2 separate regions of the Homo sapiens genome follow, and region 2 is linked to region 1. Evidence: fine-mapped expression QTL. Tissue or cell type: whole blood. Region 1 holds a variant in brackets; the other region holds the start of a gene. All regions are shown on one strand. Distances are from middle to middle.

What was found. PIP is the estimated chance that this variant, and not a neighbour inherited with it, causes the effect.
Region 2: it holds the start of ALDH1A1, and the variant in region 1 is fine-mapped to the expression of ALDH1A1 in whole blood (TOPMed, PIP above 0.99).

What each region holds. Positions count from the first base shown.
Region 1 is chr9:72,924,480-72,927,250 of GRCh38, reverse strand. ALDH1A1 (aldehyde dehydrogenase 1 family member A1) reads left to right here. Exons shown (of 13, transcript NM_000689.5): 5 at 74-135; 6 at 1,639-1,767. Among named protein-coding and RNA genes, the nearest start is that of ALDH1A1, 27 kb to the left of the region's middle. The variant C/T (reference allele first, on the strand shown) is at 1,595.
Region 2 is chr9:72,951,603-72,954,373 of GRCh38, reverse strand. ALDH1A1 (aldehyde dehydrogenase 1 family member A1) reads left to right here and starts at 1,321. Exons shown (of 13, transcript NM_000689.5): 1 at 1,321-1,439. The coding sequence starts at 1,374.

The DNA.
Region 1 (2,771 bases):
ACATCACCAACCACCATTTTGTGAATGTCAAATACATTTGTTTATATATGATTGTGTGTGTTTTATTTTTCAGATGGAAATTTTTTTACATATACAAGACATGAACCTATTGGTGTATGTGGCCAAATCATTCCTGTAAGCTTTTCTCCTATATAATTCTCAATTTTAAAAAGAAGAGTTCTTATTCTATCTAATGATGAAGCTTTCTCTAAAACAGATGGATGCTTATGTATTTGTTAAATGTGGAGTAAATGTAAGATTTGTTGAACTTGGTCTCCCTGTGACTAAACTTCTTGCATATGAATTAGGTAGTCCGAAAACCTATCTATATTCTGGCATATCTCTTGAGAATGTTTTAATACTACATCATCCATAAATGTTAACCCTTTACTCTATGGGTTGTTTTATTAAAAGTTGTATTATGTACTCTTTATAAGAGCCAAGCTTTACATGTATATGGCAAGGTGCTCTCCACTGCACATCTGCAGGATAGCATTTTGGTGGAATGTAGTGGGGCCTACTATTCTCCAACGCACTTTCTCATTGAGACATCTCATCATGCAGAACAGTAGCTCCCAGAGTGTTCAACTCATGACACACATTTTTTAATCAAAATGGAAAAAAGAATACCAGAGGCATTTGAAGCACTGCATGGAATATATTTTACCTTTAGATAAGAGGCTCAGATCCTCCATATTACTCTTAGAGGAAAGTAGCCTTTTTAAGAGGATTGTGAAGATTTTTTAAGCCCAACAAACAGGACACTATCTAAATGATTTTATTTTAACTGACATGCTTTAAAAGGCCAAACAAAAAAATGGTAGCGAAGTCCTTATGTGAAGAAATGGTCAAGACTTATCTTTGGCTCCAATGAGATTGAAATATATTCATATCAATATTTTAGTGAAATTGCTTATTAATTCAAAAGTCCCAATAAATCGATAAAAACTATATAATTATGAACACTGATAATAGCTGATATGTACTACTTGTCTATGCTAGACCAGTCATTGTGTTGAGCCCCTGGCCCTCTTTCTTGGTTAATGCTCAAGACAGCCTTCTGAGGCAGAGAGGACTATTATCAGCACTCACAGATTATGAAATCAGATACAGAGAGCACGTAACCTGTGTGAGTTCACATGGCTGGTCAGTGATTGAGCTGAGATTTGAACCCAAGTACTTGGCCTCTGGACCCTGGACATCTTTGTCTTTAGCAAGGTATTTTTCCTGGAAATAAAAGCTACTAAATAATATTATTGGGTAAATAATTACAATAAATGACTTATGGAGAAGGAGAGTAATCATCCTTTTTAAACATTTTTAGATAACTTACAGTGTGCTCCATAATAAGCCAAACCATGCAGTGATTTTTTTTTTCCTGGTAGAAAAAGAACTCAACAGTACTTGATTAAATTTTGAGGTTCTCTCCTATTTCCTTCTCATATCTCATATCTGGTTTATTCAGAGCGTTTTAGCATTTACTAGTTGCTTTTAGCAATGAAGTATAATATGCCAGATGATTTCACAAAACTACGCAATTATTACATAACATCTACAGGGGGTGTATAATATGGAAGTTGGATTAGCAAATATG[C/T]CTTTTGCAATACAAAGAATCTATTGTTACATATTGCTTTCTAGTGGAATTTCCCGTTGGTTATGCTCATTTGGAAGATAGGGCCTGCACTGAGCTGTGGAAACACAGTGGTTGTCAAACCAGCAGAGCAAACTCCTCTCACTGCTCTCCACGTGGCATCTTTAATAAAAGAGGTAAGTCTCCCGAAATCAAAATATGCTCAAGAACTCAAGAATCCTAAATTACAATAGGAAGACCTCATTTGTTGCTACTATAAAGTACATTATTTACAGATGGCTCCTGTCCAGTGGGGGGAATACATTTAGCATGACGGCTGGCTGCAATTTCTGGCAGTCACCCCAAATTCATCTCTGCCCAAATGCAGACAGGAAGCCAAACACAAAGGTTTGGTGTCAAACAGTCAACTTGGGATCACATTTTTGCTTCTTTGTCCAACTCTCATGAACATAAATTCATGTTGAAATTAATGTAGCATTCTTTCAAATGTTGAAACATTAAGTTGGTTTGTACCTGCCACTGATGGCCTAGTGTTTTCTGCAAAATTGTGTAAACTAATCTATGTAAGGTTGAAAGGGCCTCTATGCCAATATGCTTGTTTGTAATATTGGGCCACATTATTTCCAAACACTTTTCAATCTACTCATGAGTGGATATGTTTATATTCAGTTTTCTATTATGAGTTCCTCTGCATTTATCTTCCTGTTCAAAAACAGTAAAAGAACATGTAAAACATTTTCATCAGCTATCTAGATTGTGTTAATATACTTGCAAACAATTCATTGTCCTTTTTTCTTCATCTTACCAAATCTTAAAAAATAAATGTTAATCACTAGAAACTTAAAGTTACAAAACTGAACTTATCTTTTAAAGATATTATTTATTGAAATTAAAAACAGGGAAAAGAGATGTCAAAATGAAACATTTCGATGCAAATAACATGAAATTGTAATGTGCCCAACTCAGTTCCCATGCCTTCACCTGAATTCTTTAATGAAGATTGAAATCAACCTGTGATGTTGAATCATGAATGGGATGACAGTATTTACTTAACAATTTACTAAGTAATGCCAATGGGAATTTGCAACTCAGCAGTTATGCCCTCAACAATCAACAACAGCTAGGAACTAAAAAATGTTAGATCCCTTCAGCTTCTTATTTTTGCTGATGGGAATAATAA
Region 2 (2,771 bases), 27 kb before region 1:
TAAATGCCTGTAAGGGTGACTATTCACTGAGAAAACCAAAGCAGTTGATGCTTGAACCCATGTAGGAGTTCTCTTGTGGAGAATAGGGTAGAAATAGTAAACAGAAATAAGAGTCCAGGTTTGGGAGTCAGACTGGCCTGAAATGAAATTCTGGTCCTGCACTAATAGATCTGTGACCATAAGTAAGCTACTCACCCTCTGTATGTCTCTAAAATGGGGATATGAAATGAGGGTAGAAAGGGAAACAAGTGCTGCACCTGATTTGGGCAAACAATTCAGAAATTTTTAGTTTCCCTATGTAAGTCCCATATTCAGGGGAATTGGCAAGTTTCACTAGAAAAAAAAAAATTGGTTGATTCTCCACAATCAGAGCATCCAGAGTATTTTATCTTGTTCCTATTGTAACGTTTGCTAGAGCTACAATACAATAAAGTATTGTACTTAAAATGGGAGTAACACTGTTTAAAAAATTGTCCTTCAGCTAAATATTAATTTAAGAACTTGAATTGTTTGGAAGCCCTGCTTAAATTTAGTCTTTGTACACTGCCTATGTTGATAAATACAGACAACTTCCAAAACCAGGATTACTTTCATTTTAAATGAGTATTAATAGATGATATTGCCATATTTCTAATTGTGGTGATTGTGTGTGACAGTGTGTTCCGAATTCCCTAAAAGTCCTGCTGGCTTTTCTGTTCACATATAGAAAATAAAGATAATTTAGGGCTTCTGAGATCACAGTAGGTCTACTTACCCAGCACTGAAAATACACAAGACTGATACGATATTTTAAAACTAACTTAGGGTAGGGTGTAGATAAAGGGCCTTTCTTCCCCAAACAGCACCTTGATTTTCTGGGAGATGGACTGATTTCCTGAAAGCCTTGTCCTGAAGACACCTGGCCAGCTTCTACTGAGAACAAGTGCCCTTTTAGACTCTTTTCAATCCTCAAATTCTCTGATTCCAAGTCTGTCAGAGAACAGAAAGTTACATAGTAGCATTAAAAAGCATGAGAAGTCAAAAAAATAATAACTGGCCTTAGTGGCCAGAGCAGCTGCTGCATACACTTATCACAGGTTTCGGCTTTGTAAATTAATTCATCTGCAAATAGTGCACTGTCTCCAGGTACAAATTCGATGCTGGAGCACTGGTTTCTTAAGGATTTAAGTTTAAAGTCAAAGGCTTCCTGCCCTAGGTGTTACAAATAAGTAGTGTCGTTTTCTTTTTTTGCTCTGAGTTTGTTCATCCAATCGTATCCGAGTATGCAAATAAACTTTAGCCCGTGCAGATAAAAAAGGAACAAATAAAGCCAAGTGCTCTATCAGAACCAAATTGCTGAGCCAGTCACCTGTGTTCCAGGAGCCGAATCAGAAATGTCATCCTCAGGCACGCCAGACTTACCTGTCCTACTCACCGATTTGAAGATTCAATATACTAAGGTGAGTAAAACTTCTATTTTCTGCTTTGACTCGGGTTTGCAAAAACTGCATTTATGTAAAGCATTAAAGGTCAATTTAAGTAAACTTGTGTAAAGAGCCCTTTGCAAATATAAAAATAAAAGGCATGCAAAATGCAGGTCTCAGTTTAGTGTCCTGATCAAATATGATCTAAATCATATCAGACAATCTTTCATAAATTTATTTCTTAAAATATTTCCAAGCGAAAGGAATTCTCTTCTGTGTGAAAGGATTCTTATACCAGGATTCAGAGGACTTTACTAAGCACTTCTATTAACTTCACTATAGCCGGCATGTATGATAAGAGAGCAAAATACTCACTAGAGAAGCTTACTGGAAAGAACCAAACGAGTAGGAACAATAGAAAGCAAACAAGGAGAAAGAGAGCATACTGAAATAACATAACTTTCCAATATGTTTAATAAAATGAGTGTTAAAATAGGGGGACTTAAGTCTGATAATTGGATTCGAAAATCTTCAGATGGACTTGCATTATTTTGCATATTTTGGTGGGAGGAAGAAAAGCATTATTTCTTCAGCCAAGTTTGTTGCCATTGGAGCAGATGTGTAATTGTTAACTGATAAATATTTAGAGAAACAAGAGCAGGAGCTAGATCCAGACTTTAAAATCCGCAGCTGGGGGGAACTAGGAAATGGATCCTGCTTGAGTCGTTCTGAGAGTAACTCTGAACTTTGCCTGTTTCACACTGCTTTCCTGTCAGATCCTAGAACTCCAAAACAAACAAATGAATAAAACACAATCTAACCAAAATTACTTGAAGTTATCTTTATGGTGTGATGCAGAAAGTATGGTAAGAAATTAACTCTTGCAAATCAAGAGAGAGCCATTTTGCTGTCTGAATTAGCCAACAGAAAAACAAAGGGCATTATAATTTAATGATAAAGTAAAAGTCCCCACTGTTATATATTTATTTCCTCACTTGTAACCATGGATGGCTTTGAAATCCCAAGGTCTGTTGCATTTTCATTTTCATAAAGCACAACAAATGAGGAAGTTGCTCAGCTGATTGGCTCTTTTCCTCAGGAAAGTAGCAGCAGAGATCAGATTGTGCCTTTAACATGGTTGACCAGCAGCTATGAAGTGTATTTTAAGGTATTGTTATCACGAGGTTTTGTTAAAGAGGAAAGATTTTTTCCATTTAGTTTTACTACAAATGGTAGCATGAAAAATGCAGTAAATCCATACCGTCAAACAATTTACATTTGGCAAAGGTATGTCCAAAAGGTTGCAAGAGTCCAGTCTCCCTCATTTTCTTATTCCAAGTTTGTCATTCACAAGAAATTTCAATTGAA